2 separate regions of the Homo sapiens genome follow, and region 2 is linked to region 1. Evidence: fine-mapped expression QTL. Tissue or cell type: whole blood. Region 1 holds a variant in brackets; the other region holds the start of a gene. All regions are shown on one strand. Distances are between the middles of the regions. Region 1 has its middle 16 kb from the start of OCM. Region 2 holds the start of ZNF853 (zinc finger protein 853).

The links. PIP is the estimated chance that this variant, and not a neighbour inherited with it, causes the effect.
Region 2: it holds the start of ZNF853, and the variant in region 1 is the best candidate, but not a certain one, in a credible set for the expression of ZNF853 in whole blood (TOPMed, PIP 0.57).

What each region holds. Positions count from the first base shown.
Region 1 is chr7:5,859,877-5,869,793 of GRCh38, reverse strand. It overlaps a transcript of OCM not described here. Among named protein-coding and RNA genes, the nearest start is that of OCM, 16 kb to the left of the region's middle. RefSeq lists a silencer at 402-696. The variant G/A (reference allele first, on the strand shown) is at 5,075.
Region 2 is chr7:6,609,260-6,620,452 of GRCh38, reverse strand. It overlaps ZNF853 (zinc finger protein 853), which reads right to left and starts at 4,843. Exons shown (of 3, transcript NM_017560.3): 1 at 4,267-4,843; 2 at 3,146-3,263. The coding sequence starts at 4,278. RefSeq lists enhancers at 5,206-5,959, 5,960-6,713.

The sequences.
Region 1 (9,917 bases):
GAGGCTGCCAGGGCAAGCACGTGCGGATTATGGGCAGGGCGGTGAGTTGTTGCTGGGTAGTGCAGAAGAAGCTGTTCTGGGGTAACGCAGGTGGGAGCAGGTAGGAGGGGACTGGAGAAGGGTGCAGGTGGGAATGAGATCATAGGGGAGGATACAGTGCTGCAGGAAATATATTTTTTAAATTTTTAAATTTTCTTTTTTAGATGGAATCTCTGTTGCCATGGCTGGAGTGCAGTGGTGCCATCTCGGCTCACTGCAACCTCCACCTCCTGGGTTCAAGTGATTCTTCTGTCTCACCCTCCTGAGTAGCGGGGACTACAGGCACACACCACCATGCCTGGATAATTTTTGTATTTTCAGTAGAGACAGGGTTTCACCATGTTGGTCAGGCTGGTCTCGACCTCCTGACCTCAAGTGATCCACCTGCCTCGGCCTCCCAAAGTGCTGGGATTACAGCCATGAGCCACCGTGCCCAGCCAGAGCTGCAGGAAATATTTTAAGACTCCAGCTGCCAATGGCCTTGGGGAAGGGGTATGTTCACAGGTGTGTCTAGGAGGGCCTGGCACCCCCTCGTGGGGAACACTCATGCTTCCTGAGTTCCTCTCTTCTCTCTTTTATTCCTGAAGCTTTCTGTCAGTACTGTATTCAGAATACCAATGGTATGAAGTCAGCCTAGCTATGTGGAACTTTGGACTCAGTCCTTTTTGTTTTGTTTTGTTTTGTTTGTTTTTGAGACAGAGTCTCACTCTGTTGCCCAGGCTGGAGTACAATGGCGCGATCTCAGCTCACTGCAACCTCTGCCTCCCGGGTACAAGCAATTCTCCCATCTCAGCCTCCCAAGTAGCTGGGATTACAGGCGGACACCACTATGCCTGGCTAAGTTTTGTATTTTTAGTAGACACAGGGTTTCACCATGTTAGCCAGGCTGGTTTCGAACTCCTGACCTCAGGTGATCCACCTGACTTGGCCTCCCAAAGTGCTGGGATTATAGGCATCAGCCACCGTGCTCGGCCTGGACTCAGTAGCATGAGTACTGGTCTGACTTTCTGGGTAGCCCAGAGCTGTTATGGGTGTCAGACTTCACGTTCCCAGTGCCTTCTAACTGACCCTCAAAGGAAGACAGAAGCTACATCATTTCTTATTGAAATGCTGCAGGAGAGGACAATTCCTTAAAATTATCTGAGAGACTACTGGCTATGTCTTTTTTCCCCCTCACTCTTAGACACTTGCTCTAAATTACTCAGTGAAACTGATGGCAAAATCCCTTTAGACCTTTGGCTGGCTGTGTCTTCGTGAGCTCACTAGAGCATTGTTGGGGGAAGAAAAGGCTGAAATAAAGATGGGAGTGGCCGGGCGCGGTGGCTCACACCTGTAATCCCAGCACTTTGGGAGGCCAATGTGGGAGACCATTTGAGGCCAGGAGTTCAAGACCAGCCTGAGCAACATAGTGAGACCCCCATCTCTACAAAAATTAAAAAGTTCTCCTGGGTGTGGTGGTGCATGCCTGTGACTCCAGCTACTCAGGAGGTTGAGGCAGGAGAATCGCTTGAGCCCAGGTGGTTGAGGTTGTAGTGAGCTGTGATCTTGCCACTGCATTCCAGCCTTGGTAGGCCCTGTCTCCAAAAAAACAAAACAAAACAATAGCGACAACAAAACACAGTGAAGCTAGAGAAGAAAAATACACTGGATGGGATTAGCAAATTAGACACCGAAGAAAAAAAGAGTAATGAGTTTGAAAACATAGCAATGGAAAAGATGCCGGGTGCGGTGGCTCACTCCTGTAATCCCAGAACTTGGGGAGGCTGAGGTGGGTGGATCACTAGAGCTCAGGAGTTTGAGACCAGCCTGGACAACATGGTGGAACCCCATCTCTACAAAAAAATTTTAAAAAGTAGCCAGGTGTGGTGGTCCCAGCTACCGGGGAGGATCACCTGGGCCCAGGAGGTCAAGGCTGCAGTGAACCAAGATTGTGCCACTGCACTCCAGCCTGGGCAACATAGCAAGACCCCATCTTAGAAAAAACAACCCCCCAAAACAGAACCAGTCCCCTCCCAAACACCCCCACATCACAATAGAAAAGATACAAGCTGAAACACAGAGAGAAACAATTCTGGAAGAAATAAAACCAGACATCAGTGAGCTACTGGACAACTTCAAGTGGCCTAATATACATGTAATTGGAGTCTCAGAGAAAAGGAGAAAGAGGAGGGACCAGAAAAATATTTGAAGAAATAATGGCAGAAAATTTTCCACATTGGATGAAAGCAGGCTCAAGAAGCTCAATGAACCTCCAGAAAAAATAAGAGGAGGAAAAAGGAGGAGGAGGAAGAGCCAACACGTATAAAGGGCGCATTATTATAAAATTGTTTAAAACCAGTGATAAAGAGAAGATGAAGGTCATAAAGGCAGCCAGAAAAAAGAGACACAATATGTTCAGAGGAACAAAGAAAAGATTGACATCAGACTTCTCTTCTTTTTTTTTGAGATGGGGTCTTGCTATGTTGCCCAGGCTTGTCTTGAACTCCTGGGCCCAAGCGATCCTCCTGAGTAGGTGGGATTACAGGTGCACGCCACTGCACCGAGTGACATCAGACTTCTGATCAGAAACAATGCAGGCCAGAAGGCAAGGAGGAATTTTTTTTAAAGAACTGCAAGGAAAATGAACAAACAAACTATTGTGGATGGACACAAAGATTTTGCTTCTCTTAGCAATTGGAAATCACCTCAACGTCCAATGTGCAGGGATTTGTTAATTGATGGGCCATAAAAAATAAAAGGATAGTCTACAAGTCTACTTAATGATATGGAAAAATATCCACCACATATTGTAAAGTGAAACAGGCACTACGTTAAATGTATTTTGTAAATTGGAAAATATATATTTATAGACACAGGACGGCGGTTATAGGGACTGGACCTTACACAATTGTGGGAGCGGGTTACATGGTAACCAGTGCCAACCTCCACCCTCCACAGATATGTCTTCTTGCTCACAATAAACTGGAACTAGACAGGGAGGGGAAATTTAGGAAATGCAGTCCCAGTTTTGCTAAATTGACACAATATGTATCCACCACATATCAGTAAAAGACTACAGAGAAATTCACCCAAATGGTTTTAGCAGTTATTACTGGGAGTTGAGTGAGTTTAAATTCTCAGTACACAGGTCAGATGTCAGAAAATCAAACAACACATTTGGTTTTTTAATATAATAAGTCAACGAAATTTTCACTCCAATCCCTCCCATCCTATCAAGGAGGCAGGAAATTCAACATCCTTCCTTCCCTCCCTCCCTCCTTTCCTAACTTCCTTTTCTTTCTTCTTCCCTCCCTCCCTCCCTTCCTTCTTCCCTCCTTGTCTTCCCCCTCCCTCCTTCTCTCCCCCCCTTCCTTCTTTCCTTCCTCTCTTCCTCCTTTCCTCCCTCCCTTCCTCCTTTCCTCCCTCCCTCTCCCCCCCACTCCTTCCTTCTGTCCTTCATCTCACTCTGTTGCCCAGGCTGGAGTGCAGTGGCACACTCATAGCTCAGTGTCACCTTGAACTCCTGGGCTCAATGGCTCCTTCTCACCTCAACCTCTAAAGTACCTGGGACTACAGGCACACACCACCAGAACCAGCTAATTAAATTTTTTTTTTTTGTAGAGACTGGGGTTTTGCTATGTTGCCCAGGCTGGTGTTCAGCTCCTAGCCTCAAGTAATCCTCCTCCTTCAGCCTCCCCAGACACTAGGATTGCAGGCACGAGCCAGTGCACCCAGCAGAAAAATACTGGACTTTTGTACAAATACCTATGCTATTCATGAATAGCCCTTAAACTGCCCTGAAATTATGGGACTGAAGTGATTAAAATCTTTATCCAAATGAAGACAACTCTGTTATTATCAAGAGTGCGGCATATTTGACCTACATCTAGATGTGTATATGCATTTTCTTTTCCGAAAATGAATAAAAGAACAAAAGATTTCAGTATTGTTGTTACCTATGTATTAAATGCACAGTTAAACTCACTGTCTCTAAATGCACAGGGTATGTGTTGCCCAAGCCCAGGACAGTTCTCTGGGACTTCCAGGTCGCAGCTGAGCATGTTTCATTTCCTGAATTTAGTGTTCTCCCATCGCTAGAGGTGATTCATGTTCATTAATTAGGTTGGTGCAAAAGTTATTGTGGTTTTTGCATTATTGCAACTGTAATATAATTTTGCAATTATAACTTTTGCACCAGCCTAATAAAAAAACACCTTGGCTGACAAGCTATGGGAATGGGATGGCCACCATAAATGACCTTCACGGTGTTCTAAAAAGCAGTGGCTTCCAGTTCAGAAGCGGTTTGCTGCCCTCTGTCTAATGAGTTGGGGTTCTCTTTCTCCTCCACTTTCTAGGGTTTTGATGCCTCTTAGCGTCACCATCTCTCATTTGGGGAGCAATTATGAATCGTTAGTAAAAGCTCAACTTTTTTAAGAAGCAAAACCAGGAAGAAAATTCAGCATGTCCTGGTTTTCTAGACGGCATCCTCAAAGACCACACCCAGGCGCTTAATAATTTAGCCTTTTGGGCAAAGTTCTCATTAGAATAGATCAAAAACATGAATAATGCAGGCATTTGCAAATCACACTACTCGTCGGCCCCGACGCTGGCCAGGAAACACCTGAAGCAGTTGCAGTGGGGCTCAGGGTGACTGGATCGGGTGACTGGGTCATGATGACAACAAATTTGGTTAATGGGAATCCCAGGTCATATCCGATGGTATCAAACTACAGCTGCTGCCCGCTGTCTTCCACAGGTCTTTCAAGTCAAATGTCTCATGCCAGTCAAAATTCCTGCCAGGAAATCACACTCTATTTCCCTAGTTCTTTTTTTTTTTGAGAGGGAGTTTCACTCTTGTTGCCCAGGCTGGAGTGTAATGGTGCGATGTCGGCTCACTGCAACCTCCGCCTCCCGGGTTCAAGCAATTCTCCTGCCTCAGTTTCTCAAGTAGCTGGGATTGCAGGCACGCACCACCACGCCCGGCTAATTTTGTATTTTTAGTAGAGATGGGGTTGCTGGTCTCAAACTCCCAACCTCAGGTGATCCGCCTGGCTTG[G/A]CCTCCCAAAGTGCTGGGATTACAGGTGTGAGCCACGGTGCCCGGCCTATTTGATTTATTCTAATGAGAACTTTGCCCAAAAGGCTTAATTATTAAGTGCCTGGGTGTGGTCTTTGAGGATGCCGTCTAGAAAACCAGGACATGCTGAATTTTCTTGCTGGTTTTGCATCTTAAAAAAGTTGAGCTTTTACTAACGATTCATAATTGCTCCCCAAATGAGAGATGGTGACGCTAAGAGGCATCAAAACCCTAGAACGTGGAGGAGAAAAGAGAACCCCAACTCATTAGACAGAGGGCAGCAAACCCCTTCTGAACTGGAAGCCACTGCTTTTTAGAACACCGTGAAGGTCATTCTTCCTTTTTTTTTTTTTTTGAGACAAGGTCTCCCCCTGTCACCCAGGCTGGAGTGCAGTGGTGCGATCACAGCTCACCGCAGCCTCAACCTCCTGGGCTCAAGTGATTTCCCCTACCATAGCATCCCCCCCAACCAGGAGCTGGGACCACAGGCATGCACCACCATGCCTGGCTAATGCTTTATTTTTTGTAGAGACGGGATCTCATCATGTTGCCCAGGCTGGTCTTGCACTCATGGGCTCAAGCGACCCTCCTGCCTCAGCCTCCTAAAGTGCCGGGATTTCAGGTGTGAGCCACAGCACCTGGCCCCCTCTTTGCCCCCCTTGTTCCCCAGATCATTCTTGCATTCCTGATCTCCTTCTCAAACCCCAACATGTCTTCATCCTCAGCAGATGACCTTGCCTTCTCCTTAACTGAGAAAATACTAACGACCAGAGGAGAGTGTCCCCAGGTTCCCTAGACAACATCGGCCCTCTCCCAGCCTCTGCATCCACTCACTCTGCCTTCCTGCCTTAGCTATAACATGAACCATCAGGCCGGGTACAGTGGCTCACGCCTGTAATTCCAGCACTTTGCGACGCCGAGTCAGGCAGATCATGAGGTCAGGAGTTTGAGACCAGCATGGCCAACATGGTGAAACCCCATCTCTACTAAAAATACAAAAAATTAGCTGGGCGTGGTGGTGCGCACCTGTAATCCCAGCTACCTGGAAGGCTGATGCAGGAGAATCGCTTGAACCCAGGAGGTGGAGGTTGCAGTGAGCTGAGATCATGTCATTGCACTCCAGCCTGGGTGACAGAGCAAGACTCCATCTTGAGAAAAAAAAAAAAAAAATGAACCATCCACATCCTATCTAAAGCCAGCCCCTCAGCCATCTAAACTGGATTCCATTCCTGCCACCCTCTCAAGCACGTCACTCCACGTACTCCCTCTTCCCTCTCCTGTGCCATCAATTTCTCTCTCCCTAATAGATCTTTCCCATTAACATAATATTAACCGAAAAAGGGAATGAGTCATGAGTCCCCATTGACTGAGGTTGATGCAGCAGTTTGAGGACACGCCCGGGAGGAACATCAGCCACAGGAGCATCTGTGACCTGTGAGTTTCCAAAGAGGGTTTGGGAACTTCACTATTTAAAGGGGAAAGAGCAAGCAGGAGGGATAAAGGAAGGGAGGGTAGGCAGAGAGGCAAATGGTCCCATTCTCCCAAGGCTCTGATTAGCGATCAATAAATCTACATTTTACATGTCAATGAGGCATTCCTCTCCAGCTCAGGAAATCTACATTTTACATAAGGTAAAGTAAATATGTGAAAAAAGGAGTAAAGAGTCCATGATGCATTCATCTTGAGCTCAGTAAATCTACATTTTACATAAGATAAACGTATGAAAAGAGGGAGTAGAGGAGTCCATGTTGCATTCATCTCAAGCCCAGTAAATCTACATTTTACATAAGATAAACATGAAAAGAGGGAGTAAAGAGTCCATGATGCATTCATCTTGAGCTCAGTAAATCCACATTTTACATAGGATAAACATGTGAAAAGAGTAGAGGAGTCCATGATGCATTCATCTTGAGCTCAGTAGATCTACATTTTACGCAAGATAAAGTAAACTTGAAAAGGAGTAGAGTCTGTGATGCATTCATCCTAAGCCCAGTGAATCCACATTTTACATAAGATAAACGTGAAAAGAGGGAGTAAAGAGTTTATGCTGCATTCATCTTGAGCTCAGTAAATCTGCATTTTACATAACATAAAGTAAACATGAAAAGAGGGAGTAGGGGAATAGGGCCATGCTGCATTTATCTCAGGGTAGGTGGAAGGATGATTTACGATCTTGTCCTTGTCCTATCCATGTGAAAATAAGCTGGTAATCGACATTGTCAGTGTGAGATTTAACAGAACTTGCTTTTAGGGCTAGTTTATAGGGGGAGATGTATCCTGAAAGAATTAGGGGCTCACTTTGTGAGCAACTTGTGAGGGAGCCATCTGGGAAGATACGTAACGTTCTGTCTTGGTGGGCACCTGGCTTATGCATGAGGCTAGAACATGGGGTTATGAAAATACAGCTCTCCATTTGGGAACAAAAGGGAAGGCAGTATTGCATGACTCAGTTTCCAAGCTTGACTTTCTCTTTGGCATAGTGAGTTTGGGGTCCTGAGAATTTACCTTCTTTCACAATACAAACATGCTGGTGTATGGATCCTGTCTTTAAAACGAACTTTCAGTATGGATGGCAAACGAGCACATGAAAAGATGCTTAACGTTATTCATCATTAGAGAATGCAGATTAAAGCCACTGTGAGGGCCCAGGGGCACACGCCTGCAGTTCCACCCACTCAGGAGGCTGACGCAGGAGGATCACTTGAGCTCAGGAGTTTGAGGCTGTAGTGTGCAATGTTCGTGCCTGTGAACAGCCACTGTACTCTAGCCTGGGTAACATAGCAAGACCCTGTCTCTAAAAAAATTTTTTTAAATTAAAAAGTAGGCCGAGTGTGGTGGCTGATGCTTGCAATTTCAATGCTTTGGGAGGCCGAGGCGGTAGGATCACTTGAGCCCAGGGGTTTGAGACCAGCCTGGGCAACATAGTGAGACCCTGTCTCTAACAACAACAACAAATTATAAATAAATAAATAAATAAAACCACAATGAGATGCCAATACACATTAATGAAAATGTCCAAAATGAGGAGGGCTGACCCATGCCAAGCACTGGTGAGAGAGGAACTGGAACCCTCCTTCCCTGCTAAACTCACTTTCCTCTGAATAAGAAATGCATTACCCAAGTACTGAGCAACTCTCTTGGCTCTCCTTCCGCTCTTCAACATGTTTTCCTTCCTGAATGTAAATTTCCTTTGGAAAACACAGTGGAAGTGTCTATCACATGACCCAACTGGTTCTATTCCAACTTCCTCCCCAAGAACTGGGATTCTTTTTTTTTTTTTAAGACAGAATTTCGTTCTTGTTGCCCAGGCTGGAGTGCAATGGTGCGATCTCAGCTCACTTCAACCTCCGCCTCCTGGGTTCAAGCCATTTTCTTGCCTCAGCCTCCCAAGTAGCTGGGATTACAGGCACGCAGCACCAAGCCCGGCTAATTTTGTATTTTTAGTAGAGATGGGGTTTCACCGTGTTGGCCAGGCTGGTCTCGAACTCCTGACCTCAGGTGATCTGCCTACTTCAGCCTCTCAAAGTGCTGGGATTACAGGCGTGAGCCACCGCACTGCACTCGGCCAGAACTGGGATTCTTAAAGCACATCTCCCTCCCATCCTGCTAAAAACCAGCAACAACTATAACCACCACCACCTGTGGCACACACATTTGGTGTCAGCATTAGCGAGCCACCTCCAGGCTACCCCATTTGAGGACTTCTTGCCAAGAAGTTCTCCAGCAGTTTTCACCCAAAACCTGTTCTTGCTGTTTTTGCTCTCTGGCCAACTCTGTGGTCACTAAATCAATGTTTCACTTTTTCAGCAGGAACAACAATAAATAAATAAATATATATATGTATATGTATATGTATGTGTATATATGTGTGTGTGTATATATATGTATGTGTGTATGTGTGTATATATATGTATATATACACGTATATATACGAATATATATATACGTATATATGTGTATATATACGTGAATATATACACGTATATATACACGTATATATACGTAATAATATATACACACGTATATATACACGTATATATACGTAATATATATACACACGTATATATACACGTATATATACGTAATATATATACACACGTATATATACACGTATATATACGTAATATATATACACACGTATATATACACGTATATATACGTAATATATATACACACGTATATATACACGTATATATACGTAATATATATATACACGTATATATACACGTATATATACGTAATAATATACATACACGTATATATACACGCATATATACGTAATATATATATACGTATATATACACGTATATATACCTAATGATATATATATATATATGCATATATATATACACACACACACATACGGAGAGCCCCAAACTGCTTAGGCATGTGTGAAATGCTATAGCAGAAAAGAAACAAAATGGTATAGGACGCTGATTTTTTCATGAACAAGAAATGTGAGCGGCTCCGTCTCAACTTACGGATGAGCTGGAGGCAACATTTAATGAAGACTTAAGTGAGTTAATTAAGGAGAAATTGCAACTAAACCCCACATAATGAGAGAGCTGGCATCTCTCGCTCCAGGGTCCCATATTTTTATCTGTCTTCACTTGTCCATGATGTGGGTTCTCTTTGTGGGGGGGGTCTCCTTGTATTGGGCAGACATCCCCATGAGATTCAGAACCCAGGAAAAACCATCCAATAAAAAAACACTGGCTGGGCGCGGTGGCTCACACCTCTAATCCCAGCACTTTGAGAGGCCAAGGCAGGTGGATCACCTAAGATCAGGAGTTCAAGACCAGCCTGGCCAACATGGTAAAACCCT
Region 2 (11,193 bases), 750 kb before region 1:
AGCAGGGATGCTGGGGGCTCCCTGACCATCCTGAGAAGTCTCTTGCGCTTAATCACCCTCCAGTAGAAACCACTGAACTGGCTGTCCCAACGGCCAAGCCATCAACCCCATGCTGAACTCCGACCTTACAGCCACACCTTAAATAAATGAAATTATCCTTCTCTGTAAATAATAAAGAATTTATATAAAGCTGCCCGGAGGTGTTACCACAAGTAGTTTCCCAAAATCACCAAAGTGTCAGAGAGACCACTAGGTTTCAGACAGGAAGTTCTCAGTTCAGAACCTAACTCTACCAGTCGGCAGGTATACAACCTCCTGCAGGCTCACAGTCCTGTCTACAAAATAGCTCAGTGATACCCACACCATCTGCTTAAACAGTACAACAAGGAGAGCCCTGGCATAGTACCTGGAGCCTGGTAGGTGCTTGAAAATTCCCTCTCTCTGAAGGTTAGGATTGGTTTGCAAAGTAACAAAAAAATACCAAGGAGACTGGGACTGTTTGAGATTGTCATTCAGGAATACAAAGGACTAACTAGGCTGGGCGTGGTGGCTCATGCTTGTAATCGCAACACTTTGGGAGGCATAAACCTGGGAGGCCCTGCAAAAACAGCACCACTCCGTTACTACGCTTCTCTTTCCGCACCGTGTACACCATGAGATTCTCGTTTTGAGTATTACTATTGTGCTACTGGAAAATCCCAATCCTTCTTTCTACATGTGACTTGAGGAGGCTTTCTCCGTTCCCAACTCTGATTTCAACATCTCTTCTCCCTATAACATCATATGTTTTCCATTTTGTAATGGAAGACAATGCTTTGATTTATAAAAGTTTGCTTTCTGGCCATTTTTCCAAGAATATATTGATTTAATAAAACCAAGGGATGGCCGGGCGCGGTGGCTCACGCCTATAATCCCAGCACTTTGGGAGGCCGAGGCAGATGGATCACGAGGTCAGGAGATTGAGACCATCCTGGCCAACATGACGAAATCCTATCTCTACTAAAATACAAAAAATTAGTCGGGCGTGGTGGTGTGCGCCTGTAGTCCCATCTACTCGGGAGGCTGAGGCTGGGGAATCACTTGAACCTGAAAGGCAGAGGTTGCAGTGAGCTGAGATCACGCCAGTGCACTCCAGCCCAGCGACAGAGCAAGACTCCTTATCAAAAAAACAAACAAACAAACAAACAAACAAAAACAACAACCCAAGGGACATAGTGAAACCCTGTCTCTACTAAAAATACAAAAATTAGCCGGGCATGGTGGCAGGCACCTATAGTCCCAGCTACTCGGGAGGCTGCAGCAGGAGAACTGCTTGAACCCAGGAGGTGGAGGTTGCAGTGAGTCAAGATTGAGCCACCGCAATCCAGCCTGGGCAACAGAGTGAGACTCTGTCTCAAAAAAAAAAAAAAAAAAAAAAAAATCCACCAAGGGAGATCTGTATGCATATAATTTCCTCTAGTAAAATATTCCTAATAACCTTTGGTTAGGCTAACAGATCCGTGAGCGTGCTTTTCATAGACACTGACATTGGCTGGGGGGAAGCACATGGTAGAAGACAGGGTGAAAACTGTCCCCCCAGCAAGTCCAATGTCTCATGGACCCTCCTTTCTCCCACCTCTTCTGGGAGGAATGAGACAGATCATGCCTCTGTGTTGAGTCTCCTCTTTTCTGGCACAGTCTTGACCACAGGCCACTCTGACTCCCTGGGGCAGCAATTTCAGTTTTTGTTTGTTTGTTTGTTTTAAACAGGATCTCACTCTTGTCACCCAGGCTGGAGTGTAGTGGCGCAATCTCAGCTCACTGTAGCCTCAACCTCTCAAGCTCAAGCGATCCTCCCATCTCAGCCTCTCAAGTGGCTGGGACTATAGGTACACAACACCACGCCTAGCTAATTTTTTAAACTTTTTGTAGAGATGGGGTTTTGCCATGTTTCACAGGCTGGTCTCGAACTCCTGAGCTCAAGCGATCCACCTGCCTCGGTTTCCCAAAGTGCTGGGATTACAGGTGTGAGCCATTGTGCCTGACCTCAGCATTTTTAACAAAGGCATTTTAGTGAACATCTAGTCCAGTGTTGTCTGACGTGTATACCCTCCCAAAGTTTTGTCAGGTAAATTTACAAGTCAGAAGGGTCTTCTTTTCCTCTTCTTCTTTTTTTTGAGACGGACTCTCACTCTGTCACCAAGGCTGGAGTGCAGTGGCATGATCCTGGCTCACTGCAACCTCTGCCTCCTGGGTTCAAGTGATTCTTCTGCCTCAGCCTCCCGAGTAGCTGAGATTACAGGTGCCCACCACACCCAGCTCATTTTTGTATTTGTAGTAAAGACAGTGTTTCACCATGTTGGCCAGGCTGGTCTCAAACTCCTGGCCTCAACTGATCTGCCCGCCTCGGCCTCCCAAAGTGCTGGGATTACAGGAATGAGCCATCATGCTCGGTCAGAACGGTCCTTCTTGACTCCACACATCCCCATCCCACCCCCTCCAATTCCCTTGGTCCTTTTCAAGCTCTGTCCCGCCCTGCCCCAGGCCCTCACTCAGCACCCTTAAAGCACAGAATGGAAACTGGCTCTCATGAGTGTGGCCACCAGAGAAGGTTTGCCCAGAGTGGGTCCCAGAGGAAGAGGTCTTGGAAGGTTCTGCAGTACCACATCTGCCCCTGGGCATCAGGTAGAGAAAAACAGATGCAAGCAGAGGTCAAGCTAAAGTGGAAAAGGTTACGAGGCCACAGGGGAGAAGAAGCCAGGGAGCCAACATCTGGGGCAGGAGGGGCAGAGGAAGAGAGCCTATTAGTACCTGAATCGGATCCGGGAAATTGAGTGGAAATTGACTCAGGAGCTGGGGCCAGGTGGGAGGATGGTGGAGGCCCTCTGGCTGCCAGGAAACACAGCAATGAGTTCCAGCCAGCAGCGCGTGTGAGTGTTAAGTCCAGTCAGCACCCATGTGGGGAGCGGGGAGCCCCTCACCAGCCTGGCCTCAGCCTGCCTGACACAGCCACCTTGGAAAATCTCAAGGGAGAGCTGCTGGTGTTACTCAATGCAGCTGAGGTTGGCTGGTGTGAGTCTGTGCAGGCTGCCCGCCACCCTTGAGCCTCTTTCTGCCACAGCAGGCAGGCATGAGGCTCTGTCAAGGGATCCCCCGAGGCCCTCACCTGAGAGGGTGTCAGGCCCTGGGCCCCCATCCTCAAGACATTGAAGTTCCAGCACGAAGGTCTCGGTGGCTGGCCCCACTTCCATCCTGGCGGTCAGACCCCGATTCCCGGGAGTCGGCTGTGCTGAAAGGAAGGAAGCAGTTTAGCCAGGCTGGAGTGCTTTGACCCCCGCCAGGTGCCCACAGGCCCCCAAAGGCCCTCCACCTCTGCCTCGGGCCACCCAGAGCGGTCAGCTCCATACCTGCTGCAACTATAGGACTGTCCCCCGCAACGGGGAACGGGGAGTGCCGGCGGCCTGGAGGCTCAGGACTGGGGAGTTGGCAGACAGCACCAGAGGCTGTCACCTGCATAGAGGCAGGACTGCCTCTCCTGACTTTTCACAGCGGGATGGAGAGTGGGGTAGCCCCACAGAGACACAACTGTGGGTATCAGCCCTTCACAAGGGAGGAAAGCTAGAGTCACCAAAGGGACATTCAGGGCGGGGAGCTCTGGGGCCAAAGAGAGACTGTCCATCAACATCCTCCCTGCCTCCTTCAATTCTTTTTTTATTAAATACTTTTTTTTTTTTTTCTTGATACGGATTCTCACTCTGTCACCCAGGCTGGAGTGCAGTGGTGCGATCTGGACTCACTGCAACCTCCGTCTCCCCAGTTCAAGCGATTCTCCTGCCTCCGCCTCCTGAGTAGCTGGGGCTACAGGTGCGTGCCATCACCCCCAGCTAATTTTTATGTTTTTTTATATTGTAGATGATGTTGCCCAAGGCTGGTCTCGAACTCCTGGCCTCAGGCGATCCTCCTGCCTCGGCCTCCTAAAGTGTTGGGATTATAGGAGTGAGCCACTGCGCCTGGCGCCCTTCCATTCTATTGCCTTCCTGGCCTGCTCTGAGAAGGCCGCCAGCAGGCCACGTGTGTCAGCTGCCACCCCAGCTCCCGGGCAAGGCAGGTGTCCAGAGCACTGTCACCCACGGCCTGGCCCTGTGCCCAGGCGCTCCTGAGAGTCCACCCTGGCCCGTGCAGAGCTGGCCCCTCTCCCCTAAACAGGCCGACTCGTGCCATCCAGTCCAAACTCTCTCAAGGGACGCGTCCCCGGTTGCCCAGCGCCAACGACCCCCTGGGCCTCACCTGGTGGAGCATTTCCTGCTCCCGGGCAGCCTCTGCGCTAGGGAGGTGTGGTCAGCAGAGGCTGCGAGGTGAAGGCCACGGCGTGCAGCCGGCTCCTTCCGGAGGCGCCTCCATCCAGAAAGAGCCAGGAGGCGCAGGGCCACCCCGGGGGCTTTCTGGGCACTCCGGAGGGTCCACGCCCTCTGGGCTGCCGAGGTCGCCCTGGGCCAAGGGAAGGGGCTGAGAGGAGCGGCCGAGCAGAAGTTGGTGGAGACTCTCCGGCGGGGGCTGGGGCGGGAGGCAGGGCCCCGAATCCCGCGCGGGGCTCAGGGCCGGCCCCCCGGGACCATCGCGGGCAGCGGGATCCAGGCCGGCGCCCGGGGTCGGCACCACGGGGTGGCCCCGCCTGGGGTCGGCGGCGGCCAGGCGACGCGGGTCCTCGGGGGCTACAGGTGCCCGGAGCCTGCGGGCGGCCTGGGCCGGGCCGCGCGGGGGCCGGGGCGGGGGCGGGGCGGGCGCCGCGGCAAGGCCGGGTCCCCCTGGGCTCGCCCGCCCGCCCGGGAGTGCGTCCGTGCGGGCCGCTGGCCGGGCCGGGGGCGGGGGCGCGGGGGCCGGCACAGGAAGTCCCCCCGGCATCCGCATCCTGTCCCCCGCCCCTGCCCGCCCGCCGCGCCCCCGCGCCCCGGCCCCCGCCGCCGCCGCCGCCGTCGCCGCCGCCGCTCTAGGCAGCCGCAGCTCGGTGGGCTTAACCATTCCCGGCCCGGCCACTCACCCGGCCCGGGGGACACGATGCGGCGGCCCCTGGGGCGTCCCGGGCTGGCCGGTGCCGAGCGCAGCGCGCGCTGTGCCGCATCCCTGCTGCGCGTGTCCTCGCGCCACGGGGTTGGCGACTGTCACTGCCTGGGTGTCTGGGTGGGGGGTACCCAACCCGATCCCTGCCACCCCCTAGAGGGCAGGCGTGGCCTCGGGGCGCCCCTGCCGCGGTGCAAATTGTGGCTAATTAGCACACAATTCGATGGCACTCGGAGAGGGAGTAGGCGCCATCCGGGCCCGGCCCGAGCGGGCCCTGGAGAGGCCACCCCGGTCCGCACCGTGGAGCCCTCCTCCTAGACCCCGGGGCTGGGGAGGGCAGGCCAGTAGGGAGTGTGTGCCTCCCTCCCCCGATCAGGGACTGTGACCTGCATAGATCAAATGAGGCCACCGTGGAGAACTGGCAGAGCTGGAATCCTCCCGCCCAGCGCCCCTGCGGCCTTTCGCTGACCACAAGGCTGGTGGTCAGGCCTCCCACCTCCCTCACCCTCTCCTCTCCTCTTTCCCTACTTGGCAAGTGGATTCCTGCCTGGGTCAGGGGTCTTCTCCAAGGGAGGCCTTCCCTAACCCCGTCTTAATGTTGCACCACCTAACTTTCCTGTTCTCGGTGCACAAACCTCTCTAACCTGGAGAATTCAAATTCAAATTGGGATGCTCAAATTCTTTAGAAAAAACCAAAGATCTGGGGGCAGGGCATGGTACTTCACGCCTGTAAACCCAGCATTTCGGGAGGATCACTTGAGGCTGGTAGTTTGAGACCAGCCTAGCCAACATAGCAAGACCCCATCTCTACAAAAGAGGTTTTTAAAAAATTAGCTGGGCTACTGAAAAGTAGCCTGTAATCCCAACTACTTTGGAGGCCAAGGTGGGTGGACCACTTGAGCCCGGGAGGAGGTCGAGGCTGCAGTGAACTATGATCGCGCCACTGCACCCCAGCCTGGGTGATAGAGTGAGACCCTGTCTCCATCTAAAAACAAGCAAACATGCTGGGCGCGGTGGCTCACGCCTATAATCCCAGCACTTTGGGAGGCCGAGGCGGGCAGATCACCTGAGGTCTGGAGTTGGAGACCAGCCTGGCCAACATGGAGAAACTCCATCTCTACTAAAGATACAAAATTGGCCGGGCATGGTGGCACATGCCTGTAACGCCAGCTACTCTGGAGGCTGAGGCAGGAGAATCGCTTGAATCTGGGAGGTGCTCCTGGGGTGCAGCAGGAATGCCCCCCTGGTGGGGGACAAGAGCCCTCAGGGTTCACAGCCCCCTCCCTTCCTCCTGTCCCTGGGCTCACACTGCTGTGGCACAGGTGGCCACCTTGTCCTGTTTTTGGAATCTCTCTGGCCCCCACAGGCACTGGAGTTTCAGGCTTCCTTTCTGGCCCTTGCCTGAAAAGCCTGCACTCTGGTGGCTTCTGCCCCAGGCTAGAAAAAGTGCAGCAAGAGCCTGGCTTTGGAGACAGAGTCATCTAGGGTCATGGGACCTTTTGCAGCCAGGTAACTGCAGGCAAATGACTGCCTTGCGTCTGTGAAGTGGAGATGACAGCCTGCTAGGCAGGATAAGGACGAGCAGATAAGGTGAGGAGGATATGGGCAGGAGTTTAAGATCAGAGCAGGTGTGCACCTGCCTCTTCTAGCCTCCTGCAAACCCTCATGCCCTGAGGAGCCCCTCCCTCCTCAGGTCTTTATCCTCTCCCTCCACTGGCTTCTTTCTGACAGGATTTACACATCCTCAGGGCTCTCCCATCTTAAAAACATGCTACCCGGGCCAGGCGCAGTGGCTTATGCTTGTAATCCCAGCACTTTGGGAGGCCAAGGCAGGAGAATCGTGAGAGCCCTGGCTTTGGAGGCTGCAGTGAGGCATGATCATGCCACTGCACTCCAGCCTTGGCGACAGAGCAAGACTGTCTGCTGGCCGGGCACGGTGGCTCACGCCTGTAATCCTAGCATTTTGGGAGGCTAAGGTGGGCAGATCATGAGGTCAAGAGATAGAGACCATCCTTGCCGACATGGTGAAACCCTGTCTCTAATAAAAATACAAAAAAAAATATATATATATATATATATATATAGTTTGGCGTGGTGGCGCATGCTGTAGTCCCAGCTACTCAGGAGGCTGAGGCAGGAAAATCACTTGAACCCAGGAGGCAGAGGTTGCAGTGAGCCGAGATCACGCCACTGCACTCCAGCCTGGCGACAGTGTGAGACTCCGTCTCAAAAAAAAAAAAAAAAAAAAGACTGTCTGTAAAACATAAAAGAGCTACCCACTTCTCTCTCCTGCCCTTGACAGCCAAACTTCCTTTGCCATATCCCCATCTGCCCATCCCTCCTTCTCCTCTCTGACCTGGCCTCACTGCAGCCAGACAACTCCCCGTGACGTCACCAGCAATGTCCACGTCACTAAACCCTCATCATATTTGGCCTCTGGGCAGCACTGGACACTTCTGCCATGCTGTCCAGGGAGAAACACCTCGGTTCACCTTCCTCTTGGCCCCTTCTCTGACACCTTGCAGGCTCTGCTCCCCTCCCCTAGGCTCGTTGCTCACCTGTGCCACCAGAGAGGGGTCCCACCCAGTCCACACACAGTTCCTCCCACTGAGCTTTTTGTGGTTTGTTTTTGAGACAGGGTCTCACTCCCATTGCCCAGGCTAGAGTGCAGTGGCACAATCACAGCTCACTGCAGCCTCAACTTCCCAGGCTCAGGTGATCCTCCCATCTCAGCCTCCCAAGTAGCTAGGACTACAGGGATGCACCACCACACCAGGCTAATTTTTTTTGTTGAGACGAGGTCTCCCTATGTTGCCCAGCCTTGTCTTGAACTCCTGGCCTCAAGCAATCCTCCCACCCCAGCCTCCCAAAGTGCTAGGATTAACAGGCATGAGCCACTGCACCCAGCTATTTTATTTATTTATTTATTTAGAGATGGAGTCTTGCTCTGTCACCCAGGCTGGAGTGCAGTGGCGTGATCTCAGCTCACTGCAACCTCTGCCTCCCAGGCTCAAGTGACTCTCCTCCCTTAGCCTCCCGAGTAGCTGGGAACTACAGGTATGTGCCACCACGCCTGGCTAATTTTTGTATTTTTAGTAGAGACGGGGTTTCACCATGTTGGCCAGGCTGGTCTCAAACACCTGACCTCAAGTCATCCACCCGCCTCAGCCTCCCAAAGTGCTTGGATTACAGGCGTAAGCCAGCATGCCCGGCCTGGGCTAGAATCTTTTTTTTTTAGATGGAGTTTCACTCGTTTCCCGGGGGGAGTACAATGGCTTGATCTCGGCTCACCACAACCGCCACCTCCCAGGTTCAAGTGATTCTCCTGTCTCGGCCTCCTGAGTAGCTGGGATTACAGGCACAAGCTACCACACATGGCTAATTTTTGTATTTTTAGTAGAGACAGGGTATCACCATGTTGGCCAGGCTGGTCTCGAACTCCTGACCTCAAGTGATCCACCTGCTTTGGCCTCCCAAAGTGCGGGGATTACAGGCATAAGCCAGCATGCCCGGCCCCAGCTAGAATCTTTTAGTAAGCCTTCCCACATCCTCCTTTGGAGCTATAAATACCTCCCAGCTCAACTTTCCACCTAGCCAATCTGGTCAGGAAGGTATTTGCTTCACTGTTTCCCAGGGGCGTTTCTTCAGGGGCTTCCTCCCTGCAGACCCACACTGGGCAGGCTGCTGTCAGAGCTGCTGCCCACTGTCAACCTGGGACCCCCCCCTCCACCGCCGTCCTTCCGGGATTTGCCTTTGTTATCCTCATACTAATCCCTGTTCTCACACCATGTCTGTCTCTTTCTTATTTTTTGAGTCAAGATCTTGCTCTGTTACCCAGGCTGGAGTGCAGTCGTGCCATCATGGCTCACTGCAGCCTTGAACTCCTGGGTTCAAGTGATCTTCCTGTCTCAGCTTTTCCTTTTTTTTTTTTTACAGAGTCTTGCTCTGTTGCCCAGACTGGAGTGCAGTGGTGCAATCTCAGCTCAGTGCAACCTCCACCTCCCAGGTTCAAGTAATTCTCCTGCCTCACCCTCCTGAATAGCTGGGATTACAGGTGCCTGCCACCACACCCAGCTAATTTTTGTATTTTTAGTAGAGATGGGATTTTGCCATGTTGACCAGGCTGGTCTTGAACTCCTGACCCCGTGATCCACCTGCCTCGGCCTCCCAAAGTGCTGGGATTACAGGTGTGAGCCACTGTGCCCAGCCCTGTCTCAGCTATAGATTATAGATTGGCAATTGTTTCCCCTCAGAATGTTAAAGACACTTTTTTTTTTTCCAAGACAGAGTCTCACTCTGTCTCCTAGGCTGGAGTGCCGTGGTGCAACTAACAGTTTCATTGTCTTCTAGCTTCCAGAGTTGCTAGTAGAGAAGTCCAGTGCCATTTTGATTATTGATCCTTTGCGCCTGAGAAGAAAAGCTGGTGGGCCAGTAGCAGGTGCCTTGAAAGGGAGTGGAATAAGACAGACTTAGAGCTGCTCCCAGACGGCAGCTGTGGGGCTGCAGGAAGTTTGTCTCCTCCTGGAGATGATGGAAAAGATTTGGATTCTGTTCTGGGGAGGAGCAGCAGACTAGGGAGAAACACCAAGATTAATGCTGCAGTGAGCATCGATGATGCTGCCCTTCATTTTAATAGAGCACGTTCTCAAGAGTCCTTCCCTAGAAATGCTTGCATTCTCTGAATAGAATAAAAAGGAAAATAAAAATAATACAATTTTAAAAAACGGAAAGCATGCATTGGCAGTGGTCTAGTGTGCAAATGTCGGTTGTCACTCTTCAGGTCAAACACCCAATAAATGCCATCAACCGTGCCAGGACAGGGAAGTGTGTTGCATGAAAATAATCAGCCAGGAACGGTGGCTCACGCCTGTAATCCCAGCACTTTGGGAGGCCGAGGCAGGTGGATCACAAGGTCAAGAGATCGAGACCATCCTGGCCAACATAGTGAAACCCTGTCTCTACTAAAAATACAAAAATTAGCTGGACGTGGTGGCAGGTGCCTATAGTCCCAGCTACTTGGTAGGCTGAGGCAGGAGAATCACTTGAACCCAGCAGGTGGAGGCTGCAGTGAGCCAAGATGACACTACTGCACACCAGCCTGGTGACAGAGTGAGACTCTGTGTCAAAACAACAAGCAATTGGGGTTCAAGTGATTCTCCTGCCTCAGCCTCCTGAGTAGCTGGGACTACAGGTGCACATCATCCCACCTGGCTAATTTTTGTATTTTCAGTAGAGACGGGGTTTCACCATGTTGGCCAGGCTGGTCTTGAACTCCTGACCTCAGGTGATCTGCCCACCTCGGCCTTCCACAGTGCTGGGATTACAGGCATGAGCCACTGCGCCCAGCCAATTTTCTCTTTTTTGAAACAGAATTTCACTGTCACCCAGGCTGGCATGCAGTGGCACAACCTTGGCTCACTGCAGCCTCTGCCTCCTGGGTTCAAGCGATTCTCCTGCCCCAGCCTCCCGAGTACCTGGGATTTTACAGGCGCACACCACCACGTCCAGCTAATTTTTGTATTTTTAGTAGAGATGGAATTTCACCATGTTGCTAAGGCTGTTCTCGAACTCCTGGCCGCAAGTGATCCGCCCACCTTGGCCTCCCAAAGTGCTGGGATTACAAGCGTGAGCCACTGCGCCCGGCCCCAGGAGGTTCAATTTCTTCCCTGCAAGGTAAGCTCCATCTTTCAGTGCTCCATGTTTGCTGTCTCTCACTTCAGGCTAGGAGAGCCAGTGACATGGTTCCTGATCTTTCCTTCCTCCTGAAGTCAGTTAAGGGAGGACTCCAAGCAGACACCTTCCCTTTTCAGTAGGAAAAAGATCCCCGACGGCTGTTTTGTACCTGAGAGAAGAAATGTGACCCAAAGCAAATAGACCTGAAGCAGGCTGGGCGCAGTGGCTCACGCCTGTAATCCCAGCACTTTGGGAAGTCGAGACTGGTGGATCACCTGAGGTCAGGAGTTCGAGACCAGCCTGGCCAACATGGTGAAATCCTGTCTCTACTAAAAATACAAAAATTAGCCAGGCGCGGTGAAGGGCGCCTGTAATCCCAGCTACTTGGGAGTCTGAGGCAGGAGAATCGCTTGAACCTGGGATGTGGAGGTTGCAGTGAGCTGAGATCACATCACTGCACTCCAGCCTGGATGACAGAGTGAA